Linked DNA regions of Homo sapiens: region 1 is linked to region 2. A link means that fine-mapping ties the variant in region 2 to the plasma level of a protein whose gene starts in the linked region. Region 2 holds a variant in brackets. A gene starts in the other region. All regions are shown on their forward strands.

Region 1 (15,563 bases), not on the chromosome of region 2:
TTTATGTTTTTTAAAAATCGTTCAGAAAAAAAGACAAATTTGTCACAACCCTTATTTCCATAAAGGCTTTTTAAATACTTAACATCAAAGGCAATAGAGGGAAAAAATTGTCTTTAATTTTCACATATCCTCTCTTACTCTTCTACAGGACCAAGTAATATATCCAGGACTTTGGAATGAATTTGTTTGTTTGGTTTCAATACTATTATGTAAATTATAATAAAAATAGCAATAAAAATATATTACATGTCTTCTTCAATTTGGAGTCATTAAGTCTCTTTTGAGTAATTCAGAACTAAAATGTTTCTATGGGGTTCTTACATGATAATTCCTACTAGAGGCATCAAGGAATTTGCAATGATTTGTTTTGTCTTTGCTCCTGAAGAATCTATTCATTCTGTATACTCGTGTCCATTAAATTCAACTAAAGTCTATTCTACAATAAAAGGGAGTAAACTTCTGATACAGAAAAAAACCCTGATGAGTTTGAAAATCATTATACTGGGTACAAGAAGCCTGACACAAAAATAATACATACTATTTGAGTTTGTATAAAATTCTAGAAAGTATACACTAATCTAGAGTCACAAAAGTAAGATCAGTAGCTCAGGAGCAAATGGGGTCTTACAAAGAGATATGAGGCAATTTGGGGAGGTGATGGAAATGTTCTCTATCCTAATTGTGTTGGTAGTTTCATAGGTGTGTACCTATGTCAAAAGCTCATGGAATTGTGCCCTTTAAGTTAATGCAGTTGTGTACTTAAATCATACCTAATTAACTTATTTAAAAAGTCAACTACATAATTATTTTAAAATAAAAAGTTTAAAAATTCAACTAAAGATGTAATAGAAAGGGATTAGATAAAGAATTTTTCCAATGGTCTCATCAAGAGTCAAGTTCTGGGCCCGGCGCGATGGCTCACACCTGTAATCCCAACACTTTGGGAGGCCGAGGCGGGCAGATCACCTGAGGTCAGGAGTTTGAGAACAGCCTGGCCATCTCTACTCAAAAATACAAAAAAATGAGCCGGGCATGGTGGCAGGCGCCTGTAATGCCAGCTACTTGAGAAACTAAGGCAGGAGAATCGCTTGAACCCGGGAGGCAGAGTTTGCAGTGAACCAAGATCGTGCCACTGCACTCCAGCCTGGGTGACAGGAGCAAAACTCTGTCTCAAAAAAAAAAAAAAAAAGAGTCAAGTTCTGCCTTCTAGATGGTGGCAATTTGTAACATTGAAAGTTGGTATACCATTCTTTGAAGAGCCTAATAAGCACTTTGGATCCTGTAAGTGTTTGGAAAGCAGCACCTCCTTCTAAAAAGTGGTTTATTCATGGAGCTTCCATCTGAACAAACAAGCTGAAATCACAGATGCTAAACAAACAAGCTGAAGTCGCCGGATGCTAAGGAAGAGCAGTATTCAGTCATTTTCTGTTTGCCCAGGAACAGACAAACAATTTTGCTTCCAGTCTACTGCCAAGAGCCTGTGTTCTCAGTGAAGCAGGTGCTCTCAGCGAGGGTGTATCTGGTGGGAATATGAACAACCTGAGCCTACACCTGTGGCCAAACAAGGAGCTGCCTGTCCCGCATCTTCTATGGTCAGCTCTTATCCATCTTAAGGTGAAGATGAATAAGTAACAACAGCCCACTCATGACCACATCACCAGGATTCTCTCCCACACGGGCTGGAGCCCTCTGTTTTATGTTCAGTGGTGAGGACCCCTTAAGTCATGGCACAGGCAGGGCTAAGTGTTAGCCAGGAACCACTACAAATTTCCCTTTCATGCAAAAGAGCTGCTCAGAATGAGTACTTACCTTGAGCACCACAGGACTGGGCCCATCAGCTCTATCTCTGATCTAGGCATAACTCTCCCATTTACCCCGAATCCCCAAGGAAAAAAAGGCTAGAAACAATAGTAACTTTGGAGGAGGGCTGCTACCAAACTGTTTCAGAGCAGTTCTGATTGAGAAAATATTTTTTTAAAAAGCAGTTACTATTTCCTCTCTCAATATGCCTTTATAGGGTTAAGCATGCAAACTGTGAGGTCTTCACCGGCCTTAAATTTTCAACTACAAAATGGGTATAATAACATTACCTACATCATAAGATTGTGGCAAACATTGAATAAAATAAAATATATAAAGTGTTCAGGAAAATGCCTAATACAGAGAGAGTACTCAATACCTAAGAGCTATTATTTAGGTAAGAAAACCTCAGATCTTATGCTGAAAGCAACAGAGAGTAAAAAGATAAGAGTAATGTTGAGAAAAAGATCGAGGGATAAGACAAAAGGAGCAAAACAATCTCTGAAATAGAGCCTGAGTTTTCTGTGCAAGCTGTAGAAAACAGCCATATGAAACGCTCAGTACATAAAGGACACCTTTGCCTTCCTTTCTCAGGAAATCAAAGAAATCCAAGTTTTTAAGAAAATCAGTTTTTAACACTCAGCCAATCAACCAATTTATCTCTAGGCGTTTTCTCCTTGAGAAATATTGTGAAGAGGGATTTCCTTTTGATTGTGGTGCCGTGTGTTTTACAAAGCAGCAAGGAAAGGCTTTTATACACAGCTGAGCAACAAACAAAGAAAAGCTGACCAGACCTATCAAGTGGGACTCATTGATTTGATGGGAGAAACTGTTGCTTGACTGCAGGTTGCAGATGATTTTAAATTGGATGGGCTTGAGAACATCTAAGAAAGAAGGAGGTAATTTTAAAAATTGGAAGTCTATGAACTTTGAGTAGCATAATGTAACAATAGGTGAGACAGAGTCAAAAATACTCAGTCCTTTAGAAGAGTAAGAGAGAATATGTCAAGATTATGTCAAAAATACCTGTACAGATGTGGAATGGGAAAAGACCAACTTGGTACAAATATAGCCTAACACCTCAAGTTGAGCACAACCTGAATATAAGTCAGCAATGTTCATGATTGTAGGCTGTATAAACAGGAGCTTAAGGTATATGATTGGAAAATAACCCCTTCCAAAATCCTCAGCATCAGCTAGCAATAAAGTTAAAAATGCAATTCCAGGGAATTAGCCTGGAACTTTTCCAGATTGTCTGGAGTAAACTGCCAAGAAAGTGGAGTGACACTTCAGAAAGATTCTTCTTTCTGTTTTCAGTGTTAACTCTCATTTTCTCCATCTTTTTGACCCAGTATCTCTTCTTATGGGATTTACAACAAATATGTCAATATTATGATGATAACTGTATAATCAACCCATTAGGTACCTACCAGACGATCTTGAATTTTATCTACAAGGGTTGGATCACTCAACAGTAAAGTGGGTTCACTGGATGAATCCCCAGAAATCAAACGAAGTTTGGCTTCATTGACTACCGTAGAAAGTGCAATGGTGATAAATGATATTCCTGAAATTCTGGCATCTTCAGAAATACTTTGAACATCTGGATTCTTTGGATGGTCGATGCCATCAGTCATCAGCAAAACCACTTTCACACCATCCTTACGCCCTTCTCTCTTAAGTAGCCTAGTGGCATTGGAAATGGCATAATAAGAGAAGGTACCTTGCCCTATTAAATTCATAGACTTGACCTTCTGCTTAAATGTCTGCAGGTCCTTCCAGGAAGAAAAAGGTGGATCAATTTGGACAGAGCTGCTAAACTGAAGGGCTGCCAGTTTGATGTCATATTCCAAGGAGCGACCAGGAGTCAATTGGAAAATCTTGTCACTCAAGCTATCCACAAAATCTTTCTGTTTATCAAAGAGGGCAATTTTAGAACTTTCAGAGCTGTCCACGATGAAGACAATATCTATGAAACAAATGGAGCCTGAAACAGAATAAACAGGTTAGGCAAAATAATTATTCCTATCATGAAACAAATTTGCATACGGAAAGCCCTGAAGTGGTGTGTTGTATATTGTTTGGTGTTGAGAGCAGCGTGAGGAGAGAAAGAGAGACACGTTGGACAGAAGGCTTCAATTGTAAAAAACTAAATGTCTAAGTTTATGAATTATTTTCTCCTTGTAAAATCATGCAAATTAAAAATAAATAAGATATCTTTTATTCTGAGCATCTTTTCAATGTTAAACCTGCTGAAAGTGGGAGGAAATGGGAAGTCAAGATGCATCACATTTTAAAAATCCAACTAACACTGAGCATAGTTGTCTAGAAGTAAATGATACTCTAATTCTCAGGTTGTGTCATATTGGTGAGTCCCTATTTTTTTTTAAACTTTCTTGAAATCAAGGGAGAAAATGACTATACCCCCTATACCAAGAGTAAGTGGAGAAGAAACCTAACTTAAACACAACTTAAGTTTAAATCCCAGCTCTGTGTCTCAGTGGTTAATTTGCCTATGGCCTTGAGTATGCCACTCGACCTGTTAAGACCTCAATTTTTTTAATCTACACTATGAGTGGCAATCTCCGTCCTGCCTATTTTACAAGGTTACTGTGAGGCTCAAATGAGATAATAAGTGCACAAGTGCTCTTATTAAAGACTCTGATGTGCTATAAGTATGTAAGGTATATTATCATCATATAATTTTATCAAAGTAGACTATCACATGTATACATGTATATGGCTTGCTATTTATATCAAATGCTATTTAGAAAAATTCACATAAGTATTTTTAACAGGCTAAACTTAAAAACAAACAATTTTTTTTTTTTTACCCTGGACATCACTTTTCCTTGCAAGCAAATTTGATTTTGGTCCTTTCTTTCTTTGTCCGGATACTGTTTGACTCGTAAACGCTGACAAAAGCAGGAGATAGAAGACAAAATATCTGTTCCACATTATGGTAGATGGTGAAAAATCATCTGTCTTGTAGCACCTTTAATAGAAAAGTCAGTTACAAATACTTTAATAAAATATGGTGTTTGTTATTTTTAAATTTCAAGCCAGCAGGGTTGAAAACTGGCATGTGACTGGAAAAAAGAGGTTTTCATTCATATTTCTAGAAAAATATTCACATTGAGATTTTGAAAGATTTCAATCCAAATAAATCATGGCACCATGACCAAACATTTATTAGTGAATATTTCTATATATTCAAAGAACTATATTTAAGTATTCTTAATTCCGCATTGTATTTTGAGGAGCATAGAGTTGGGAGAGCCATTTAAAAACATTTCAATCCCGCTCTATATGATTACTGTGGTTCAATCACAGGGTCTGCTTTGACATTTCCAAATTCTTCAGGGGGAATTCAGATTGCTATATGGTCATTTCATTCACTTTCATTATAACTGATTCCTGACAAATCTAGTATTTTGTAGAACTGTAGACAACCACCACCCTTTCAGGCTTAATACTACACACATAACTTCAGTGAGTTCAGAGGTCAAGGTAAAAATTAAACGACCCTTCTGTTTCCATAGAACCCCATCTCTCTTTTCTACCCTAGCTTTGGAAACTTTGTCTCCACCAGGGGTTCAAAGCTGCATATGCAATGAATCAAAAGAGTATGAGAGCAAAAATAATAGATTTGCTTAAAAGCAACACTCTTCTTCCAGTGATGGCTAAAAGAACTAATGGACAGAAACGGGACTTAAAGCCAAGAAGCACCCCCTCTGAATAGCCCCGTGAAACTATTTTTCTGGGTGGATTAACAACGAAAAATCTAATTCTGTATTAAAATCCTCAATCTTCATCAGTCAATATGCCTAGCTACACACCAACTGACTCTTAAACTGACAGATTTCCCTGGGAGGAGAAGACTCATGTGTTGCTGCCTCAGTATACCCAAGAGAATGGGAACGAGAAAGCTTATTTCGAATCAATACTTAGTATGGCTTAAAAATGCTTGCCTGCTGAAACTTTATTGACTTCAGGAGTTCTGGAAAAGGAATCACATTTTCCTTCTTTGGCACCTTGCCTTTAGGGGATAAGAATCTGGGAAATCATGAGCACGATTTTTCCAGACTCTGAGTAGAGAGTGGAAATATATGCAAAGGCAGTGAGGAGTGAGATGGAGACTGACTTTTTTCATACATGCCAGATGGATAAACCCCAAAGGGAAACAAAACTGTTGGGTTAGGAGAGGACCAATGGATGGCTTCATGCCACAGTCTGCTCCTCACATAGCATCATCCAGCTGGAAGTGTATTAAAAGAACTTTGGATAGGTATGACCAAACATCTTGTGTAGCAATTGGCCAAATGCCAACTGATCCTCAGACAAGGTATACTAAAATGTAAAGACAGCTGGGTATTAAAAACAAAACAAAACCAAGAAATGTGCTAAGGAAACAGAACACACAAAGGCCATCTCTCCTCAAGTTGTCCCTTTGCTAACCAAGGAAAAAAATAAATGATGTACAACTTTAAGTCTGAAGGTTAGTGTAAAGATAAGGCTATGTGAAAAACACAGTTGTTATTGCATTTTCAAAGGGGAAAGGGAATAACACCATGGCCATGGTATTACATATGACTTTTCTCTTTGGTTGAGTTCATACCATAAGGAACATCTCAGAAGTTCTGGAAATAAGAGGCTGAGAACTGAATTCCATTGAGAACTGAGCAAGATTTTATAAGCAACATAATCAAGCAACTCTTCAAAACCCTTCATGTAAGGTTTTAGAAATACTGGCTTTAAATAAAGATTTATCTTTTCCCAAAACTAAGCACCTGCTCTTACTGTTTTCTTGGCATATAATCATGAATTTGTACCTGATCCCTGTATATATGATATTCACAAACATAACTTTTCCATTGACAATAATCCCAGTATCTCATATTTTGTTCTTATTTGCTCTGACATTGTTAATCTAGCTCTCCCAAACCAAAGTCTTGTTATTTCTTTCTGTTTCCCTATTGTAGCCAGAGGACATTTTCATACCTCTCTAGATTTGTTTCTCTAGCTTGTTAGTTCTACTGCTTCCCTGAAATATCTTTCTCGTTTATTAATTTGGCATCTTGAGAGCCCACTCATTTCTAATCACTTTTTACCATGTTTTATTTTGCCTCTGTTTTTAATAATTCTCACCTTTCTCTCTTTCTGATGTCACGTACAAGCAAAATAGGTTTCAGAGGAAACAGTGCCATTAGTTAAGTGAAAGAAATGTGAACCTCTGTGTTTACTATAGGTTACATTTTATAAATGCAGAAACAATCATAATTATTAATCAAATACCGTAGTTTTACTTTTGGCCTAAAATTTATTTGGGGTAAATATCAGGATCAGTAAATAAATCCAAGATACTTTATTTTTTATAATTTTTCAAAAATAAAATGATCTTATATCAGAGTTCACCAACTTTAGTTACAATGTTTGCATCTCAGTTTCTACACAAATAGAAAATGATTGAATAAAGACTTTATTCAAATTGACAAATTAGCCAAGTTGTAAAGTATTCTATAACTAATTCTGAATTGTAAACCCTGTTCCAAATTAAGAAAAAGATGTCCTAAAATATATTAACATCGTTGTAAAACAATTTAGAAGACTGTAAATTAAAAATCCATTTCAAAATAATTTTAAGTTTTAAATTTCTACATTTTAACAATGTTAATATTTTTCTAATAATTGATTTGAAGTAATTGCAGAGAATACAAACTATTGACAAGCTTTCTCACCTAATAATTATGTAAGTAAGTCATTTAGTCTTCCACAGTTCCTTGATGGTCCTATCTGATTTCAAGTGACTAAAATAAATCTGTTATGTCTTACCTTATAAAGTTTGTCAAACAGGAATTAAAGACTAGTTGAGTAAATGCCAACAGCAAGGACTGTGGTTGGGGGTGAAGTTAGCTATTTGATATTGTTCTGTTCTGTGGGAAATAAAAGTGTCTTTGCTTTAGGATCTTTTGCAGTCTTTTGTTCATGTTTATTCGACTAAGTCAAAGCAAGAGTGGTCAGGCATTTGGCCAGGGTGCAAGATCTGGGTGGGATCAGTAAGCAATTTAAAGGAACAGTGTCCTTTCAGAATGAGACTGTGTTTTCCAGACTATTGTAAAAACAACTTGAGAGAACTTTCTACATTTTAGGCATTGGTTGACAGCCTGCCTTTTTTTCTCATGCTATGTCCTTCTCTTTTTATTGCTACATTTCTTTGCCTGGGGGATGTGCTCTAAGATACTGGTTCTGAACATCTCTGTGAAGGAGTATAAATGACACCAGACTCAGAATCAAAGCTGTTTTTTTAAGAGAGGTAACAGTTTGATTGTTATTAAAGCTGGATGATGAGTACATAGGTGTGCATTGTTCTAGTCTTTGTATTTCTGTGATTTTTGAAATTTTTTATAATAAAAGGTATATATAATATACAGGGAAAGAGTGGTCTGAGTATAGTCATAGTTCTGCCCCTAACTTTTATGGGGGCTTCAGTTCCCCACTTATGAAATGAGAGAGTAGATTTAATCATTTATTAAGATGTGTTCGAACTGTAACATGAGAGGTTTACAGCGGTTAATATTTTGGTCTCTCTCTAGGAAAGGATCACTGTGGTTTTTCCACTCCCTGTTTCCCTATTTTCTACCTTGTGGTTATGGTCCATATTAAGTCAATGTTTATCATGTAATATATACTGCCAAGAAGCCACCTGACCCCTAGACAGCTAACAGGCAGGCTTCTCCACGGACTTCCTCTGAAATAGAGAATAGCAAGATCATCCGAGAAAGCAATACAAATGTGCATGTTACGGTTATTTAAAATGAACTTTCTTAGCCATTTTAATGTGTATGAATTTCCTTATTACAGCAATAATAGCCTCCAATTCATGGACACTTACCAGGTGCTAGGCACTGTCCTGAGTGCTTCACACACATTACCTCATTTAATCCTTCACAAGCACAACCACCTATATACAGTAAGTCCTCACTTAATGTCCTCTGTAGGTTCTGGAAACTGTGACATAAAGTGAAACAATTGATAATGAAGACAATTTTCCCAAGAGCTAATTGATATAAATAAGAGTTAAGCTCTTATGGCATATTCCTAGTCACAAAAACATCACTAAACCTCTAAATACTCAAAACACCTCTAATAATAAACATTGAAATAAATCTAAGCTATATATACATTTATGAAAGATTGATAAAAACAAGATAACTGCTTACCTGCATATTCCAGTTCAGGGTCACGGTTGACCAGATCCTGTCCCAGCAGCTGAGGATACAAGGCAGGAACCAGCCCTGGACAGGATGCAGTACTGTCAAAGGGCACTCATACACCCACCCACTCTCTCAGACAGGCACCATGTAGACACACCAATGCATCTAATGGGCAAAGCTTTGGGATGTGGGAGGAAACTCCAGGACCTGGAGAAAACCCACACAGACATGGGGAAAACATGTCAACTCCACACAGTGAGCCTGGCCCAGGAATTGAATTTTTTTTCTCATCAATGTTATAACAAAATGACATTGAACAAAATATTATTCCAGGACCCCTTGTACTTAGTAGATGTTGTAAGAATTCGAATTTTTCCAAGATGGAGGCAGAGAGAGGTTCAGTAACTTGTCCGCTGTCATACTAAAACCAGAGAATGGCAAAATGAACTTTTAACTCAGGCTGGTAAGACCTGTGAGCCTCACTTATAACAACTACTGCATCATTAAGTATCTATGCGAACGTCTGTGTTTTCACTGTCTCCTCCTCACAAAACAGGTTTCGAGGAACTGAGGAAGTTTTGTGAGGCTTTGGTAACAGAAAGAAGAAACGGTGGGTATAATGCAGAAATAACAACGGAATTTCCTAGGGAACAACCATGTATTTACCTGATAGCCTATGGGTGTTAGTCACACTTTTTACTTTTGTAAGATGAGAATCAAGAGACAAGGAAGTAGCATCTTTTCAGGTCAACTCTCTTTTTGCTGAGGCAGGTTAAAAACATGCAGAATAATAATGCCACTAAGAAGCAAACAGGTGATTCCTAGATGGGGGAAATGGACTAAAGCCCTCCTGCCTTGGAGCTGTTTTGATTAAAGTTGGTGGGAGGTTGGAGTCCAACTTAGTCATCCATTCCCTTTCATTCTCCAACATTAAATAGGGTAACTCAAACCAAAGATTTGCCACCTCTCATTCTCAAGCGTGAAAATCAGCACTAAATTAATTGGGAAGATTATGCAAAATAAAATCTTCAGTTTCATCAATCTATAAAAGACAATTAGTTTTGCACCCAGAGAAACAATGCACCACAATCTTAATCCCAACAGATGGTCTTGAATTAGTATGCTATTGGACTTACACCAGAACAAATAAGAGAGCATGGATAACCATAATGACTAGAAAAAGGCAACGTGGAGCCCATGCCCTTCTGACAGTTATTTTGTAGTAAAAGTCTTTATGGAAGAAATATAGCACACTATTTTCATTGTTACTACTATAAATAGCCCAGAGTAAGCAGTCATATTTGTGAAATAAATGATTATTAGAAGTAATTTTTAGTGTTTATCAGTCACTTGAGGTCTGTGATACAATAAATTGCTCTTCTCCAAAGCTCTGCTAGATGAAAATCTTTTTTCAACTTTTTCAAATTCTTTTAATATGCTACCATAGTAGCATCTGCATTGTGTTTATTGATTCTAGTACCAGTGCCAACATCTTAATTTCAGTGGTGATGATATTTTGGGGTCCTAGAATCATTTAAAAAGAGACAAGTCTGCTAGGACTTACATATTTCAGAGAATTGTATCTGCATGAAGTCATAGAAATACACACAAAAAAAGGCTGGTAACAAATCAAAGTTATATATTTTGACCAAGATTAAGGCATAGTATAGTTTCACAAGCTTCTCCCTATTTTAGCCACCTCCCACACTGCTGATCTAGAGTAGAAAAAAAAAAACATTACCAACTAACAAGGAAGAAATTAATGACCTTCGTACCTGATTTGAAGAAATTTGTTCTTGAAGATCCTTTCCTTTCTTTCTTTCTTTTTTTCTTTTTCTTTCTTTCTTTCTCTTTCTTCTTTTTGTCAGTAGAAAAGCTTGATATAGTAGAATTTCTAACACCTGCCCCAAAGCTCTGAAATTTCTGGGATTCATTATCCTTGGACCCAGAATATGACCTAGGCATTCTCTCAACTCCTTCATCAGTAATTAGAGGAACACTGTCTTAGTCCATTTTGTGTTGCTATAAAGGAATACCTAAGGCTGAGTAATCTATAAAGAAAAGAGGTTTATTTGGCTTACAATTCTGCAGTCTATGCAAGAAGCATGACACCAGCATCTGCTTCTGGTGAGGGCCATTGACTGCTTCTACTCATGGCAGAAGGTGAAAGGGGACCAGCGTGTGCAGATCATATGGTAAGAGGGAGCAAGAGAGCAGGGAGAGAGGTGTCAGACTCTTTTAAAGAATCAGCTCCCCCAGGAACTAATACAGAGAGAACACACTCATTACCGCAAGGATGGCATTAAGTCATTCATAAGGGATCCACCCACATGACCCAAACGTTTCCCATCAGGCCCCACTTCCAACAGTGGGGATGAAATTTCAACACGAGGTTTGGAGGGGGCAAATATGCAAACCATGGCAAACACCAAAACTGTATTGGTCTTATTTGTCAACAAAGGGAAAGATTAAAAGCATTCAAAGACAATAAGAAAATAAAAATTATCATTGGTAATAAAATACAGGATGTGGCATTGCTTAAATGTGGAACAGCGTGACTTCAGTTCCTATGCCCTCACCAAATTCTGATTGAGTTGATCCTTCCACATTCCCTCTACTATTTTTCAATTGTTACTATTATTTAATAAACTTTATGGTTTAGAGCAGTTTCGGGGTACAGCAACACGGACTCAATTATCTTTTATATCGTTTACTCCCTAAGATCTCTTGCTTCATTATTTGTCATTCAATCCCCAGCTTGAATAATTGTGTCACATTTGCAACACACAGTGCCTCATAGGCTACAGTGACAGGCTAAATTCCCGTTATACCAATCTTATGACTATTAATCTCTTTCTCTAAAATATTTTTTCAATATTAATATTTCTTCTTTCCATGTTGTTTATTCCTGACTAAATGCAATTATTTTAGACCAAAAATAAATCAAGGTGCCATCTGGAAAGTTTTACAATTTTTTTTCTAAGAAATATCTGAAAGTAGATTGATCTAGTCCTATCATAGGTTTGAATGTTCAATATTTTTCTTTAATTATTTTCTTTGGTCAATGGATAGAGCAGTTTTAACTTTTTCATGCAGAGCCTACAAATAGAGAAAGATCAGATCTATTTATACCTTGACTAAACTCTGCTTTAAATGGCAAAATATTTCTATTTTTCACTTAGTTCATTTTACTTTCAGATATTAGACAGTGTTATTCTAGATCTTGGTGAATTATTTGATAACCACTGATTGGTATTTAAACTTTTCTTGTATTGGGGACAAACAATAGTGTTAAATCTCTGAACTGGAAGGAAACTTAGAAACCACTTTTATTTAATTCTGCCATTTCACAGTTGATAAAATAGAGGACAGATATTAAGACCCACCCAAAGGTCAAATCATTAATCAGTGAGGGACTAAAATTTAGGTCTTTGTGCATCAAAGTGGCCATCTTTCATTATCTCTAAATGCCCTAGAAAATTTTTAGGCCTTTGCGCTATCCAGGCTTGTGCTTGAGCAGGAGAAAAAGGAAGCTGTATGGCTAATAATTTATATTTATAAGGATTTAACTTTAGTGGCAAATGGCTCAGAACAAATCATCATGGGCTAAGTCCCAGCACATTAAAGAGTCTCACCTCTCACTGTGTAAATCTTAGTGCCTGGGCCATTAAAGGCAATGAACACCACCTCTTCGAACCCTGGGTTGAAAAACTTTCTCCTCCAGGTTTGGACAGGTTTATCTGAGTAGCTGGGGATTGTTACAGCTACTTCAATAACTGATCCCTAATCAAAACATAGCCAGTAATATAGGTAGATATCATCATTTGCATGAATATTAAGTTGTAGAAACACAATACCTACTTGGGTTTTCTGGTCAGTGTATTGAGATTTAATAAGAATATCCAAAAAAAGTTTTAAAATAACTCTTCTAAATTTCTGGAATAAAAGTGTTTTAAGAGCATTAAGTAACTTATTATCCCATGTTATATTAAGCCGTTACAATGCTGGTTTACACAACATTGTTCCCAGTTAAGGTAATAGGGTCATCTGTTTTTTTCATTGCATCTAAATTATATAGTTCCTCCTGCACAACAGTTTGTTTCTCCTTCTGCCCTTAGAAATTCTATACTAAGGGTAAATTATTCATGGACAAAATTTATAGAAAAGGGGACTTGAGGTGAATTTTTTTTTTCCTATTTGGGGATATGAACAACCTTTTAATAATACTAAATTCTACACAGAAATAAAGTACCTATTATCATTATTCATTGTTTATATCCAGAACTATAGATTTTGAAATCACATATATAATGTTATTTAATGTTGAGTAACTTTTACTTAATTATATATTTTCTGTTATTCTAATTGACCAAATTCAGAAATGCCAAATACTAACACAATTTAGTCAGGACTCTGCATGGGTCTTCAGGAAGTGTTGTTTGAAAAAAGATATTTGGGCACCACCTTGTGGGACTTTGTAGAAAGACATAGTGTGAGAGTTTGTCAACTATTGTTAACAGATGAAAAATTTTAATCGTCTGTGATGCTGAACGGGTGGAATAAAAGTTGCTTTCTACAGCTTTTTTGGGCAGAAGAATGAGGAGACGAACGAAAGAGTGATAAAACTACTCTTATATAGGATCAAGAAGCTCTCTAAGTAACATCTGATGAAATCCATAACTCATTCACTTAACTAACATCAACTTAGTTTCTACTATATGTGAGGCACTGGATAGAAAACAGATAGATGCAGTCACTTCAACCCAGTGAAGAAAATAAGCAAGTAAAGAGCAATGGCAAGTTTTACCCAAAAAAAAAAAAAATTAAGTAATCACATATCTAACTCTAGTTGACAATACCATGCTGCAGGGTTTGGGAACAAAATTTACCAGTGTCTGCAACTTACTTTGAAATGCATCATAAAGAAAGAAGATGGGGCTGGGTGCGGTGGCTCACGCCTGTAATCCCAGCACTTTGGGAGGCCGAGGCGGGCAGATCACAAGGTCAGGAGATCAAGGCCATCCTGGCCAACATAGTGAAACCCCGTCTCTACTAAAAATACAAAAATTAGCTGGGCGTGGTGGTGCATGCCTGTAATCCCAGCCACTCAGGAGGCTGAGGCAGGAGAATTGCTTGAACCAGTGCGCTGAGATGGCACCACTGCACTCCGGCCTGGCCACAGAGTGAGATCCCATCTAAAAAAAGAAAGAAAAAGAGAAGAAAAGAGACGGGTAGAAGAATGGGTAGATGGGTAGATTATGCAATAGAGCAAATATGTTCATTGTAAATACAATTGTGAAATCTGGGTGGCAGGTAATGGGTTTGCTGTATAATTCTGTTAACTTTTCTGTATGTTTGACAATTTTCATAACAAAATATTAGGCCAAAAAGAGCAAGAGCAATATAGTGTGATAACATCTATAAAAGAGACTTACACAGAGGGCACCCAGGTCAGACTGTGATATGGAAGTTGGAAGTGCAGGAGCAGAGGATAAACAGTGGTTTCTTTTATGCCATGTTAAAGGGTTTAAACTTTATCTTGAAAGCAACGGGAGCCACTGAACAATTTTAAGCAGGGTTGTGACATGATCACACTTTCATGCTAGGAAAATCACTCTGATTGCTGTGTGAATAATGGCAGGAAAACAAGCTTGGAGGCTGAGATCTACTAGGAAACTTACTATGACACCAATGAGAGATAAGGCTCTCAAGTACCAGCAATGAGAATGCAAAGTGAAGAAGTCTAAGAAATATTAAGAAGCAGAATCAAAGAGCTTAGTACCTAATTGGCCTAGGAAAGTGGAAGAAATGAAGGAGAAAGATGGTACCCAGCAGTCTGCCAAAAAGTATTTAATAACTGTCTCTCTGGGGAAAAAAGTGTATTGTACACATATACATACGTAAGTTTATCAGAAATGTTATTGATAAAGAACGTATGGTATAAAATTTTCAAATAATAATAAAATACACAATATTCTCTATTATAAATTCTATATAGCAAACTGATTCATACAGATTGCTTTCATTGATTTTTGGCCAAATTCTTATATCTTTAGCCAATCTATGGTTGTAATTGATGAATGAGTATAGTTCCAACAAGAATGTTGGTTGGCATTTTCCTCTTCTTGAACAAGTAAGACAAAAATGAAACAAAGAAAAAGGTGCATGTGCATTGAAACTTCATTTGTTTGTCAATGATATAAGCAACTTTGTAGCTGAATAATATAATACTTTTCAAATACTGAAACATTTTCTTAGTTTTTTTCTTATTCAACTGTTACAGATAAAATACACTTTTGAGTTTAATCTGCATTATTGTTTTCTCCATCACTTTCTTTGGCCTAGACAATAAATAAGACAGTAATTCAAGCCCTAATTTGTAGCAGATTTCTATTGTGTAAAAAGTCCTACTATGTCAGATTTCAAATTACTAATGTGACATCACTGAACACAGGGTTGCAAAGAGAAACACAAATATATAGCAGCATACCACTATGCAGGATTTCCATCATATAGTTGCCATGGATGCAAACAACTTCAAGTACACAC
Region 2 (15,563 bases):
GCCTCCCGAAGTGTTGGGGTTACAGGCGTGAGCCAATGCGCCTGGCCTAATTTTTATATTTTTAGTAGAGACGGGGTTTCCCTGTGTTGGCCAGGATGGTCTCCATCTCCTGACGTCGTGATCCGCCCGCCTCGGCCTCCGGAAGTGCTGGGATGACGGGCGTGAGCCACCGGGCCCGGCCTGGTTACTGTTTTCTGTTTTTGTTGCCCTGGTTCGTTGTTCCTTATTTTGTCTTCCACTCTTTTTCTGCCTTTTTTGGTTTTGATTGCATGTTTTGTGTGATTCCATTTTTTCTCCTTTCTTAGCAAGTCAGGTATGCTTCTCTTTCCTTTTTTTAGTGATAGCCCTAGAGATATTTATTTATTTATTTGGCAGGGTCTTGCTCTATCAGCCAGGTTGGAGTGCAGTGGTACAATCATGGCTCACTGCAGCCTTAATCTCCTGGGCTCAAGCCATCCTGTTACCTCAGCTTCCCAAGTAGCTAGGACCACAGGGTATATGCCTCCAAGCCCAGCTTATTTTTAAAAACTTTTTGTGGCCGGGCACGGTGGCTCATGCCTGTAATCCCAGCACTCTGGGAGGCCGAGGTGGGTGGATCACCTGAGGTCAGGAGTTTGAGACCAGCCTGGCCAACATGGTGAAACCCTGTCTCTACAAAAATACCAAAAAAATTAGCTGGGCATGATGGCGGGTGCCTGTAATCCCAGCTGCTCGGGAGGCTGATGCGGGAGAATCTCCTGAACCCGAGAGGCAGAGGTTGCAGTGAACTGAGATTGTGTCATCGCACTCCAGCCTGGGCGACAGAGGGAGAGTCTGTCTCAAAAACAAAAAAAAACGACAACAAAAAAAACTTTGTAAAGACAGGGTGTCACTATGTTGCCCAGACTGGTCTTGAACTCCTGGCCTCAAGCAATCCTCCCGCCCCAGCCTCCCAAAATGCTGGCATTTCAGGCATGAGCCACCGCACCCAACCTAGAAGTTTTCATTACATGTCTTCAGGCTCAGAGTCTTTCCTCAGCCACACCCAGTCTACTCATGTGTCCATTAAAGTCATTCTCCATTTCTGTTACAGTGCTTTTCAAATCTCTCCCATGGCTTTTTCATTCTTAGGATTTCCACTTCTCAGCCTGTATTGCCTGTTTTTGCATGTTGTCTACTTTTTCCATTAGAGCACTTCACCTGTTAATCATACTTGTTTTAAATTCCCAGTCTGATAATTCCAATGTCCCTGCCATATATGAGGGGTTCTGCTTTATCTCTTCAAGCTCTGTCTTTTGCCTTTTAGTATGCCTTGTCATTTCTTTCTGGAAAGCCAGACGCAATGTACTGGGTGAAAGGCACTGAAGTAAATAGACCTTTAGTAACCCAGTGGTGAGATGTGGGCAGAGGGCAAGGATTCCCTGATCCTTTGATGACGTCTCAGTCTATTCTTGAGCCTGTGCCCCGCGACACTGAACTTCACAAGTGCTTCTCAGTTCTTCCTTCTCCTCTCACTTGGCGGGACAAGATGAATAGAGGAAGATGATGGGGGATACATCTCTTTCCACAGGTAATTTAGACACTGATGAAACCCCAACAGGTGAGGCTCTGATCAAATAGTTTTAAGGGAAAGGCCCGGTGAGAAAGAGCAGAAATATCTAGCCTATTTCAAAATCATTATTCTTCTCCTCTACAAGACTGGGCCCCCTGAGATTGCTAACTCAGACTTGGGCCCGCTGTGCCCCCAGCAATTCATCAGTTACAGCTCAGGGTTTCCCATCTAAGTAACGGTTCCCACAGAGGCTTCTGTTCATGGTTGCGTGTTCTGGTAAGTTATGACTCTCTGTATCCGCCTCTCTCTTCAGTTTGAGGGGGCAGAGCTTGCCTTGTGACATCAGTTCTCTGAAGGATGGAAGAAGAGCTTGTTGAGGTTTCAGTTTGTTCAGCTTTTTGTTACAAGGGAATAATAACTTCCAAGCTCCTTACATGCTGGACCAAAAACTAGAAGTCATTTAACTTTTAAAAAGAACTGCCACACTGTTTTCTTAATTGGTTGTACCATTTTACATTCCCACCAGCAATGTGTGAAGATTCCTGTTTCTCCATATCCTTGCCAAAACTTATTTTCTTTTTTAGTTTTTTATTTTACCCATCCTAGTGGGTGAGAAGTGGTATCTCCTTTTTGTTTTGATTTGCATTTCTTTGATGACTAATTACTGACAATGTTTATTTTTCTTGGAGAAATGTCTATTTACATCCTTTCCCCACTTTTTTGTTGTTGAGACTGAGTCTTGCCCTGTCACCCAGGCTGGAGTGCAATGGTGCGATCTCGGCTCACTGCAACCTCTGCCTCCTGGGTTCAAGCGATTCTCCCTCCTCAGCCTCCTGAGTAGCTGGGATTACAGGCATCCGCCACCACGCCCAGCTAATTTTTGTGTTTTTAGTAGAGACGGGGTTTCACCATATTGGCTCAGCTGGTCTCAAACTGCTGACCTTGTGATCCACCCACCTCTAAAGTGCTGAGATGACAGGTGTGAGCCACTGTGCCTGGCTGCTAAATCAGTTTTGTTTGATCTTTTCAAACAACTAGCTTTGGTTTCATTGATTTTTCTCTATTGTTTTACTGTTCTCTATTTCATTAATTTGCCTGTAATATTTATTATTTCCTTACTCCTAATTGCTTAGGTTTAGTTTTATTTTCCTATTGTGTCGAGGTGGACCACGTTAGGTTGTTGATTTGCAATCTTTAGGATAGGTATTTATAGCTATTAACTTCCTTTATATAAGTTTTGGTATATTATGTCTTTATTTTACATCCATCTCGAAGTATTTCCCTTTTGATTTCTCTTTGATCCATTAGTTATGGAGGAGTGTGTTAATATCCACATATTAGTGAATTTGCCAAATTTTCTGTATTAGTTTCAGATTTCATTTCTCATTCCATTGTGGTCAGAGAACATACTTATTTCTGGTTTTTTTTTTGGTGGGGGGAGACTAACTCTCACTCTGTCAGTGATGTGATCAGAGCTCACTGCAACTTCTGTCTTCAAGCAGTTCTCGTGCCTCACCCTCCCAAGTAGCTGGGAATCCACGTGTGTGCCACCATACCCAGCAAATTTTTGCATTTTTAGTAGAGACAGGGTCTCACTATGTTGCCCAGGCTGGTCTCGAACACCTGAGCTCCAGCGATCCATCTGCCTTGATCTCCCAAAATCCTGGGATTACAGGCGTGAGCCACCGCGCCCGGCCAATATTTTGTATTTCTATTGTTTAAAATGTGTTGAGGTTTCTTCTATGGCCTAGCAAAGGGTCTCTTTTACAGAACGTTCTTCTGCACTTGAGAAGAATGTGTGTTTTGCTGTTGTTGGGTTCAGTGTTCTGCAGATGTCTGCTATGTCTAAATGACTTATAGTGTTCAATTATTTTATTTCCTCGTATTTCACCTAGATGTTCTCTCATTAAAAAGTGGGGTAATTGATGATGCTGTGCTCAACTAAAAAAGAAAAAAGAATGGGTGTTTATGTTTCAACTTGTATTTTTAATTATCCATTTCTTTTATTTTTATTTATTTTTTTGAGTCTTGCTCTGTCACCTAGGCTAGAGTGACATTCTTGGCTGGAGAGCACAATCTTGGCTCACCGCAACCTCCACCTCCTGGGTTCAAGTGATTCTCCTGCCTCAGCCTCCTGAGTAGCTAGGATTACAGGCACGCACCACCATGCCCAGCAAAATTTGTATTTTTAGCAGAGACGGGGGTTTCTCCATGTTGGTCAGGCTGGTCTCAAACTCCCGACCTCAGGTGATCTGCCTGCCTCGGCCTCCCAAAGTGCTGGGATTACAGGCGTGAGCCACTGCACCCGGCCACTACTTTCATTTTCATTAAGTATTTTCTAATGAAACCTTTCAGTTGTTTAACTTTTTACTGTTTGTTGGTCTCTTTAGGGGTTACTGTATTGTCAATGCGAGGCTTATCAGATGAGCTTCGGGTTTATATTCATCGCTCGATTCCAGTGAGATACAGAAATGCTGCGTGTGTAGCTCTATTCCTTCCTGCCCCTCCAACTTCTATGGCAATATGAATACATGCTACATCCATGAATATTATATGCCAAAACAGTGCGTTTTAATTAGTACTTTACCATCTGTAGTCATGTCCCTTTGCTTAAATATGCCTTTGCTCCCTCCCACCCTCCTCCTCTGTGCTGTTATTGGCAAATAGGTATTCTTATGTGTTATACATCCAACAGTGCTTTCCAAACATATTCATACAGTTGCCTTTAAAATAATTTAAGAAAATAAAGGGGAATAAAGGGGGAAAACGGATACAATGTTGCCTAGGGCTCCAGGCAGACAAAGACAGGAATTCTTAAGTCACATTGTTAGAAACTCCCTGGCCAGCCTCAGGCCCGTCCATACAAAGATCCCCTCACCAGGCAGGGGATTCCAAGGACTTACCATTTTCTGCAGTAGCTGGTGGAAGGCTTTTCCGAAAGTCCTATGAAATGTGCATCGTTTGGACAACCGAGGCCTGCTGCGTTATGCAACGTTTCAAATGGAAAAGTTACTTCATTTGCATAGCATTTCTCTAGACCCTCCTGGTAGAGGAAAATAAGAGCAGTCGCAGTAAAAAGGCAGAGATAAGTTCAGACTGATAGTGGTGCCATGAAGTTTACTAGGAAGTGATTGTGAATAAGTAAAAGATCTAACATTCGCGTCATAGAGGAGGTGTTGGGACACCACAGAATCTTGTTTGAATTTATGAATTGAGTCCAGTTCCCCAGTACTTTCAGTGTCTCCAATCCTCCTGCACACCTGTGTGGTTTGTCTTAGGACTCAGTGGTCTTTGAGGATGTGGCTGTGGACTTCACCCTGGAGGAGTGGGCTTTGCTGGATTCTGCTCAGAGGGACCTCTACAGAGATGTGATGCTGGAGACCTTCCGGAACCTGGCCTCAGTAGGTGAGGATGGCATCATTCCTTCCCTTGGTTTTTAATGAACTCATTTCTTTCTCATCAGTTCTGTTGCAAGATGTGAAATGTGGGAAAGGACTAAGACAGACATGTTCACAGCCACCATGGACCTAGAATCTAGTCATTATTCCCTAACAGTGAAAACATGTGTGAAACAGATGTTATTTCTGTCTTGGTTTAAAGGACTTGAAGTTCCTTTAGTGTCATTAGTAGGGGTATAGATTTCACTGGTCATTTAGGATCACAGAGTGGTTCCTTGTTTGATACCTGTGACTTACTGTGTTTGTGAAATACCTAACATTTTGACCCCTTATGTCTGTTATTGATGAGGTCCTCAAAATGCTAAACTCCTCAGTGTCTTCCTTTGCTTAATACGTGTCTTATTCCTTTTGAGATTTGTTTACTTTTTTGTTGCAGATGATGGGACTCAATTTAAAGCCAATGGGTCAGTTTCTCTGCAGGATATGTACGGGCAAGAAAAATCTAAGGAACAGACAATACCAAACTTCACAGGAAATAATTCCTGTGCCTACACTTTAGAAAAAAATTGTGAAGGCTATGGCACTGAAGACCACCACAAAAATCTGAGGTGAGTTGCACTCACAAGAGAAAAATCCTTGTATGCAATTAAATATATATCTAAGTATTGCTCCAAATATAAGCATTGCTCCAAATTTGTTTATTCCTCAGAATTTTAACCAAAAAAAAAAATTTGTATTTGACTAAGACATTGAGAATTTGAAACATAATTGTTAGAAGTAATTACAGGGGGCCGGGCGCGATGGCTCACGCCTGTAATCCCAGCACTTTGGGAGGCTGAGGCAGGCGGATCACGAGGTCAGGAGATCAAGACCATTCTGGCTAACATGGTGAAAACCCGCCTCTACTAAAAATACCAAAAAAAAAATAGCCGAGCGTGGTGGCAGGCACCTGTAGTCCCAGCTACCTGTGAGGCGGAGGCAGGAGAATGCTGTGAACCTGGGAGGCAGAGCTTGCAGTGAGCTGAGATTGCGCCACTGCACTCCAGCCTGGGTGACAGAGTGAGACTCCATCTCAAAAAATAAATAAATAAAAAGAAATTACAGGAAAACCCCATATATAATAAATACTGCATTAAAAAATATGTCTCTTCAAACAATTCAGAATAGAAAAACTTCACGTATACTGAAATGTAGTTAGACATTATTTCTAATACTTGTTAATACATCTCAACACATCATTACTAAACATACCATACATAAAAATGTCTCTCATTTTTAACAGAAATCATATGGTGGACAGATTCTGTACACATAATGAAGGTAATCAATATGGAGAAGCCATCCATCAAATGCCAGATCTTACCCTGCACAAGAAAGTTTCTGCTGGAGAAAAACCATATGAATGCACCAAGTGCAGGACAGTCTTCACGCATCTTTCTTCTCTTAAAAGGCACGTCAAGTCTCACTGTGGACGAAAAGCACCTCCAGGTGAGGAATGTAAGCAGGCCTGCATTTGTCCCTCACACCTACACAGTCACGGAAGAACTGACACTGAGGAGAAGCCGTATAAGTGTCAAGCATGTGGGCAAACTTTCCAACATCCTCGTTACCTCTCCCACCACGTAAAGACTCACACAGCAGAGAAAACCTACAAATGCGAGCAGTGTCGGATGGCGTTTAATGGGTTCGCAAGCTTCACTAGACATGTGAGAACTCACACAAAAGACAGGCCATATAAATGTCAGGAATGTGGGAGAGCCTTCATTTATCCCTCGACATTTCAAAGACACATGACAACACACACTGGAGAGAAGCCCTATAAATGTCAGCACTGTGGGAAAGCCTTCACTTACCCCCAGGCTTTTCAAAGACATGAGAAGACGCACACGGGAGAGAAGCCCTATGAATGCAAGCAGTGTGGGAAAACATTCAGTTGGTCTGAAACCTTGCGAGTCCACATGAGGATCCACACTGGGGACAAACTCTATAAATGTGAACACTGTGGGAAGGCTTTTACCTCTTCCAGATCATTCCAAGGTCATTTGAGGA[C/T]GCACACTGGAGAGAAACCTTATGAGTGTAAACAATGTGGGAAAGCCTTCACTTGGTCCTCAACGTTTAGAGAACATGTGAGAATTCACACGCAAGAGCAGCTCTATAAATGTGAACAATGTGGGAAGGCTTTTACCTCTTCCAGATCATTCCGAGGTCATTTGAGGACGCACACTGGAGAGAAGCCTTATGAGTGTAAACAATGTGGAAAAACCTTCACTTGGTCCTCAACGTTTAGAGAACATGTGAGAATTCACACGCAAGAGCAGCTCCATAAATGTGAACACTGTGGGAAGGCCTTTACCTCTTCCAGAGCATTCCAAGGTCATTTGAGGATGCACACTGGAGAGAAGCCTTATGAGTGTAAACAATGTGGAAAAACCTTCACTTGGTCCTCAACCTTACATAATCATGTGAGGATGCACACTGGAGAGAAACCTCACAAATGTAAACAATGTGGGATGTCCTTCAAGTGGCACTCCTCCTTCCGGAACCATCTGAGGATGCACACAGGACAGAAATCCCACGAATGTCAGTCATACTCAAAAGCCTTCAGTTGCCAAGTCATTCTTTCTAAAACCAGTGAGAGCACACACTAAAGAGAAATTCTATAACTTTAATGGGGTAACCTCACATTAATTCATGTATAATGCTCCAGAAAATTCACACCAGGAGAGAAATCTTACAAGTATGATATTGTCTTTGTCAATACCTCATTTGTAAAACAGACCCATTAGTCGTGAATTTCCAGCTCTTTCAAAAATAAATGTTTATGTGAGAAAATAATTCTCTAAGTCCTCTTTCAGCTATAGTACCTAAGTTTTAATAGTTAAGTGTTTTGTCTCTTAAATATTTTCATTTCGAACTGTATTAGACCCATGGTGATTTGAAGCATACTTTGAACATGACACAATTTTTTTTTTTATTTTTTTTTTGAGACAGTCTTGCTCTGTCACCCAGGCTGGGGTGCAGTGGTGCGATCTCCACTCACTGCAAGCTCCGCCTCCCAAGTTCACGCCATTCTCCTGCCTCAGCCTCCCAAGTAGCTGGGACTACAGCCACCTGCCACCACGCCTGGCTAATTTTTTGTATTTTTAGTAGAGATGGGGTTTCACCGTGTTAGCCAGGATGGTCTCGATCTCCTGACCTCATGGTCTGCCCACCTTGGCCTCCCAAAGTGCTGGGATTACAGGCGTGAGCCACCATGCCCGGCCAAACATGACATAATTTTTATAGTTTCTATATTTTTCTGTATGGGATCATTACAACAATAAAACTTTGGTATTTCTTACTGGCCTACTGCTACAGATAGTGGATATCACTTACCTATTTTATATATTGTACCTTACCAAATTTTTTTTTGCAAAACCTGGTAAATATGCAGAGTTCTCTATAAAGTATAGTCTCTAATCATCTTTTGCAATTTGTTTTTCCTCATTTCTCACTGGGAGTTAGACAGCAGCCTTTGAATTAGGAATGGGGACCTACAAAACAAGAATGAAATCTGTAGATGGTTTTGTTACGGATATATGTGTAAGGCTGGGAACGACATTTCCCTGAATGTCTTTCCTTTATGGCACCAAGTTAAAATCTGCTGATTTTCTACTGTGCATGAGGTTTGGCAGTCAGGACTAGAGAAGTCATTACCCGCTTTGTAGAGCCAGCATACTCAGAGACATAAAGGTGGCACACAGGCGCACCATGCACACAGCCTTCTGGATCATTGTACTCATTCCTGCCACTGTTAATGAAGAGTGTCTCTACAACAGACACCAGCTGCCTAACTTTCAGCCAGACATCTCCATGAGCTCTCCCAACATGAAGACATTTAGTGTGGATTGCTACAACACCTGCCACGTCCACCAGGCCACTGATTCTGACTGTCGTGGTGATCATCTCTGAAGCTAACTCCCTCCTTTAGGTCTTACCTTATTTTTATTTTATTTATTTATTTTTGAGACATAGTCTTGCTGTGTTGCCCAAGCTGAAGTGCAGTGGTGTGATCTCGGCTCACAACCTCTGCGCCTCCCGGGTTCAAGCGATTCTCCTGCCTCAGCCTCCCAAGTAGCTGAGACTACAGGTATGCACCACCATGCCCCGCTAACTTTTGTATTTTCAGTAGAGACAGGGTTTCACTATGTTGGCCGGGCTGGTCTTGAACTCCGGACCTCGTGATCCACCTGCCTTGGCCTCCCAAAGTGCTGGGATTACAGGTGTGAGCCACCGTGCCCAGCCCAGGTCTTACCTTATTTTTATACTAAACATTTTCTTTTGTTCTCTTAGTACTGCTTATGGTTCTGTGTGCAGACACAACCATGACAGCCTATGCACCAGCCAAAAAGCGCGCACACACACGTTTGATCGTGTACAGCATCGCTGAATGACTACTTAGTCCATGTAAGAATAATCACCTCTCATATCAGGCAGACTGGTGGAGTTTCCTATTACTCAGAGCCGAGTGCAACCCTTCAGTATATGTTCAATACTATGTTTAATTATATGCTATTAAGAACAAGACACTTTTTGTCAAATTCCTCTGTAGTGGTTTCTTAGATTTTATCAACCATGTTCAGATAAATTATATAATAACAAATATTTTTACTCTGAAGATATAAATATTCCATTGCAATTATGGAATATGAAATCAACTTTGTAATTCTGTCAGTTTAGGCACTATCTATTAGCATTCCCAGATGTGTACCAGCTCATGCACTCTTCTTAAAGGTCAATTTTTCATATACTTAAAACTTTTGACATTAACATAAATTCTTTTTTTTTTTTTTGAGATGGAGTCTCACTCTGTCGCCCAGGCTGGAGTGCAGTAGGGTGATCTCGGCTCACTGCAAGCTCCGCCTTTGGGTTCACGCCATTCTCCTGTCTCAGCCTCCCGAGTAGCTGGGACTACAGGTGCCCGCCACCACGCCCAGCTAATTTTTTTGTATTTTTAGTAGAGATGGGGTTTCACCGTGTTAGCCAGGATGGTCTCGATCTCCTGACCTCGTGATCCACCCGCCTCAGCCTCCCAAAGTGCTGGGATTACAGGCGTGAGCCACCACACCCGGCACTTCTACCCTGACAATCTTAACCAAAGAACTACTCAGGGCTGTTTAAATGGTGGGGAGCAATAGATACACAGGTGTGCATTGTTGGAGTTAACAGTAATGACTCCCCGTAACAATAAACACGGGTATGCTTCAGCTTCATTTTTGCAATGGTTTAAACTTTTAGGCCATGTGATATGCGGCCATGAATTTGAACATGATTGTCACTGATCAGAGGGTTCCCATTTGATGTGGACCACAGAGCATCTTACCTACACAAGTTGTAAGTTGAGTGTTAGCCTAGCTCCTGCTGCAGCAGGTCCCTCCCCCAGCCTCCTGCATTCCAACCTGGGTGCCGGGTGACATCCAACATCTGACGGCTATGATGTTAAGGCTACAAATGCTGCATTTGATACTGGGGGCACAATTGCCATTATTTTATAAAGGGGGGGCCTTCATAAAAGCCCGGGCGCGGTGGCTCACGCCTGGAATCCCAGCGCTTTGGGAAGCCGAGGCGGGCAGATCACGAGGTCAGGAGATTGAGACCCCAGTGAAACCCTGTCTCTAGTAAAAATACAAAAAATTAGCCGGGCGTGGTGGCGGGCGCCTGTAGTCCCAGCTACTCGGGAGGCTGAGGCAGGAGAATGGCGTGAACCCGGGAGATGGAGCTTGCAGTGAGCCGAGATCGCACCACTGCACTCCAGCCCGGGCGACAGAGCGAGACTCTGTCTTTAAAAAATAAAAAAGCCTTTGTATGGCAAGGCTCGCCAGGCCAGGTGGCTGACGCCCGTAAATCCCAACACTTTGGGACGCCAAGGCAGGCAGATCACTTGAGGTAAGGAGTTTGAGATCAGCCTGGCCAACGTGGTGAAACCCCGTCTTTACTTAAAAAATACAAAAATTGGCTGGGCGCAGTGACTGATGCCTGTAATCCCAGTTTCTCAGGAGGCTGAGGCTAGGAGAATTGCTTGAACCCGGGAGGCGGAGGTTGCAGTGAGCTGAGATCACACCACTGCACTCCAGCCTGGGCGACAGAACAAGACTCTGTCTCAAAAATAAATAAAAATAAAAGCCTTTGTCGTATGTGGCTCTTGCATCTGAATGTTAAAAATTGACATAAAACATTAAATTTTTGAAATTTCATAAATAGTAGAGGGTTCATCTTATACGGAGAATGACTGCATGGCAAACGTGATTGCTGCCAAAAGCTGGAGTTTGGTAAGGGCATAGCCAGGCACTGTGACCTCCACCCATTCCTGACACTGGGCTCTTGACCCCCCACCTGGGGGATGCCTCACTGCTGATGGCTTGTGTTTGGCTTTCTGGATTCACTGCAGTTTGTAACAGTGGATGGACAGTTTGACCCTGCTTCCCTCACCATCTCCTGGTACACACAACTTAGTAAGGTACTTATCCCTCGGAAACAGACATCTTTTCTGAGCTGCTCACTGGATAAATGATCAGGACAAAAGGGATGGGAGGTTACGTAAAGCCATCTTGAAATTTTTTTGATAATTTCATATTTTATCACAACCAATTTTTAAACCTGTGTCTTTGAGTAAATAGCATTAAAAGGTTTTTCTGTGGAAAAACTGTTCCTATTCCATACAACCCTTCCAGAAGAAAGGTCTGGATAACACTAAAGGATGATTTTTTTAAATGTAAAATGATTGCCCAATGGGACACAGTGACTTTGTAACAGGAGGAAATATCCAAAAGCATCTGAGGAGGTGGCTGGAGGAGGGCAGAGGCGAGTGTTCATCTTATTTTTCAGAATCTTTCCTGCAACTTTTTCCTTCCTCCTGAAGGAAAACCCTCTGTGCTGCTTTCCAAAGTCCCGTGAGTTCTTTTTATTTTATTTTATTTATTTTTTTGAGACAGAGTTTCACTCTTGTTGCCCAGGCTGGAGTGCAATGGCGTGATCCTGGCTTACTGCAACCTCCACCTCCTGGGTTCAAGCGATTCTCCTGCCTTGGCGTTCCAGGTAGCTGAGACTACAGGCATGCGCCACCATCCTCGGCTAATTTTGTATTTTGAGTAGAGATGAAGTTTCACCATGTTGGTCAGGCTCGTCTCAACCTCCTGACCTCAGGTGATCCACCTGCCTCAGCTTCCCAAAGTGCTGGGATTACAGGCGTGAGCCAATGTGCCCGCCCAGTAAGTTCTTTGAACGCAAACTGACTGCTGAGCCTAGACCACCCTGACACGCCGTGAGGGAGCCACCCAGCTGCTATTCCTGCCCTGCAGAACACCCTTAGGGCCACAGTGGTGAAAGTGATGATCTGTGGTCATAGACAAGCAAACCATGTGGAACTGACTGCCTCAGGCAGTCCCTCTGAAATCGGGGACTCAACTAACCTCATTGGACAGGACTGAGAATTCTCCCTACAGGGGGAGTCCGCGCTGAGTGTCTGTTAACCTTCACTGCTGACTAATGGATGTCTTGCTTAGGTTGCCCTGACAATTGTAAACTCAGTTTCCGGCAGTACCTTGTGTGTCCTGTGGGACTGTAATCAGGTGTGGAACCTATTGCAACACCGTCTGAGCTGTGGAAGCTTCAAATTACTGGCAAGAGTTCTGCTCTACCACACACTTGGTAAGTTAGGACAGGTAAAAAGGATTCATACACAAGTTTAAGGAGGAAGCCAGGTGGCTTTCTAAAATAGACCTTTATTTTAACTAAGTCCGAAACCCCTAAAGGGCATAGCTGGAATCATTCCTGCAAGCTCATTACCCCCATGCTGTGACGGTCTTACTGATGATTATTTTGTTGTAAAGCAGGGGCCAATAGGCTGCACTGCAAAAAACTTAGCAAAACAGGCCTGAGTGCTATCCCTTGAAAGGCCCGTTTACAAGGTCAGCTGTGTCAAAATTGCACAAGCAATATGGTTTATGCAAAACACCATTCATTCCAGGCATCTGGAATCTTGGTATTTGCCAAGCAGTGAGTGCATCATAACCAGCTGGCAATAAAAAAAAACCCTGGCAGAGTATCTATTGAGCTTCTCAGGTTGGTAAATAGTCACACATGCTGTTACAATTAGTTTCCCGGGCAGTAAAAGCATCTTGTACGCTGCCAACCAGGGAGGACCCTTGGAAGCTCATTCCTGGTTTCCCCGACTTCACCCCATGTGCCTCATCCCTTTGCTAATAGTTGGCTCTGTTTCCTTGCACTGTAATAAGTCTTAGCTGTAAGGCTGACTATATGCCAGTTCCCTTCAGTACCCCTAACAAATCACTGAACCACTGGGGGTGGCCTTGAGGCCCCCCAGTACACTTGACATCCTGAAACTGGGAAATTTTAAAGGCATTTTCATAAGAGTGGATGGAAGTTTTGTGTTTTAATAATCTGCAAAGCTCAAAAAGCCCATTTTGCTTTTCAAAGATATGATTTTCATAAGTTTGCACTTCCACCAAATGGGCTCACAGGAAAGAGAAGAAAATGTAATAGCTTTCTGTGTGCGTGTGGTGGGGGGCGTTGTTTCTTTGTAGAGATGAGGTCTCACTATGTTGACCAGGCTGGTCTGGAACTCCTGGACTCAAGTAATCCTCCTGCCTCAGCCTCCCAAAGCTCTGGGATTAAAGTTGAGAGCCACCACCCCTGGCCAATAGCTTTGCATTTTGTTAATGAGGAAAGCAAATGAAATTCTGTCAATTTCTCGATGTTAAGTACTGCAGAGATTAATATGACTTACCATCTCATTGCACCTCCTGTTCCCAGCTTCCCTCCCATCATACAAATGAAGAAAGTTAAGCACAAGGAACACAGAATCTTAACCTTAACTCACATATCTTGATGTAAACATAGTAATTTAACCTCTCAGTTTTGAAGGCCTGTTATCTGCCACCTCTTATACTTAGCTCTGTCGATTGTTTTTTTTTTTTTTTTTCCAGACGGAGCTTCGCTCTTGTTGCCCAGGCTGGAGTGCAATGGCGCGATCTCGGCTCACCGCAACGTCTGCCTCCTGGGTTCAAGCGATTCTCCTGCCTCAGCCTCCTGAGTAGCTGGGATTACAGGCATGCCCGGCCAACTTTTTGTATTTTTAGTAGAGACGGGGTTTCTCCGTATTGGTCAGGCTGGTCTCCAACTCCTGACCTCAGGTGATCCGCCCACCTCGGCCTCCCAAAAATGCTGGGATTACAGGTGTGAGCCACTGTGCCCAGCCTGTCAAATGTTTTTAAACTGAAAATTCTACAAGACAATAATAGGCTGGGCGCCATGGCTCACACCTGTAAACCCAGCACTTCGGGAGGCCAAAGTGGGAGGATTGCTTGAGCTCAGGAGTTCGAGGCCAGCCTGGGCAACATAAGGAGACCTTGTCTCTACTAAAAAAATTTTTTTTAATTAGCAAGGCATGGTGCTGCATGCCTGGAGTCCCAGCTACCGGGGAGGCTGAGGCGGGAGGATCACTTAAGCCCAGACGTTTGAGGCAGCAGTGAGCTATGACTGTGCCCCTCCCACTCCAGCCTAGGTGACAGGATGTGACCCTTGTCTCAATCAATCAATAAATGACAAGTATAATTAGCTAATTTTACAAATATGGCATCGAATTTTACAAACAGGGCTCAAAAGGCTACATATTTCACGTAACATGACATTCTGGAAAAGGCAAAGATACAGGTGGCTAAAGCAGATCAGTGGTTAGGGGTGAAAGGTTGAGTACAATTGGGCAATCCAAGAGTATTTGGGGAGTGATAGAATGTTCTCTGTTTTGGTGGTGTAAATATGCATTTATGAAAACTCATAGAAATACGCTTAAAATAGTCTTACTGTATGTATATTAAAAATAATCAACAACAACAAACCGCTTTCGCTTACTAAGAGAAAATGTAAACTCTCCTGAACTTTGAAAACATGCAATGTGGCTGGGCGCGGTGGATCACGCCTGTAATCCCAGCATTTTGGGAGGCCGAGGTGGGCGGATCACGTGAGGTCAGGAGTTCAAGGCCAGCCTGACCAACATGGTGAAACCCCGTCTCCACAAAAATACAAAAAATTAGCCGGGCGTGGTGGCAGGTGCCTATAATCCCAGCTACTCGGGAGGCTGAGGCAGGAGAATCGCTTGAACCTGGGAGGCGGAGGTTGCGGTGAGCCCGAGATAGCGCCACTGCACTCCAGCCTGGGCAACAAGAGCGAAACTCCATCTCAATAAATAAATAAATAAATAATTAAAATGAAAGAAAAGAAAAGAAAACGTGCAACGTTTCTTTTACCACCTTTGGATACTCAGGAAGCACTGAAGGTCTGAGGAAGGAGGGCTCATGCCCCAAATTTGCCTGTACTGATGTTAGGAAATGCCCTTTCGGGCCGCGCCTGCTAAGAACGCTTCTGTGAGATTTCAGTTTATTCACGTCCCCAGGGTCAGATCTTTGGAGATGCTGTGGTTTTGAAAACCTAAAAGCGCACTCCAGTTCTCCCAAAGGGGGACCCTTCCTAGTGGGGGGTCCTAATCCTCAAGCATCAGCCGAGGACTTGGCTTCAGGCCAGTTTCGACTCTCCAGCTCCCATAACAACCCAGTTCCACGACTTCTTCCCAACAAGCC

Which allele goes with the higher level. Positions count from the first base shown, and alleles are read on the strand shown. Strength reflects both the effect of a copy and how common the allele is.
As copies of T replace C in region 2, the plasma level of the protein whose gene starts at base 7,756 in region 1 goes up (weak association).

What was found. PIP is the chance, under the fine-mapping model, that this variant and not a neighbour inherited with it causes the effect. The UK Biobank Pharma Proteomics Project read protein levels with antibody pairs (Olink). The fine-mapping took linkage between variants from a reference panel, not from the people measured, so its PIPs are less certain.
Region 1: COL28A1 starts here. The variant in region 2 is fine-mapped to the plasma level of the COL28A1 protein (UK Biobank, PIP 0.99).

What each region holds. Positions count from the first base shown.
Region 1 is chr7:7,528,118-7,543,680 of GRCh38, forward strand. It overlaps COL28A1 (collagen type XXVIII alpha 1 chain), which reads right to left and starts at 7,756. Exons shown (of 35, transcript NM_001037763.3): 1 at 7,633-7,756; 2 at 4,635-4,795; 3 at 3,231-3,787. The coding sequence starts at 4,758.
Region 2 is chr19:2,910,713-2,926,275 of GRCh38, forward strand. It overlaps ZNF57 (zinc finger protein 57), which reads left to right. Exons shown (of 4, transcript NM_173480.3): 2 at 4,810-4,936; 3 at 5,366-5,537; 4 at 6,212-7,761. The coding sequence ends at 7,577. Among named protein-coding and RNA genes, the nearest start is that of ZNF57, 18 kb to the left of the region's middle. The variant C/T (reference allele first, on the strand shown) is at 6,979.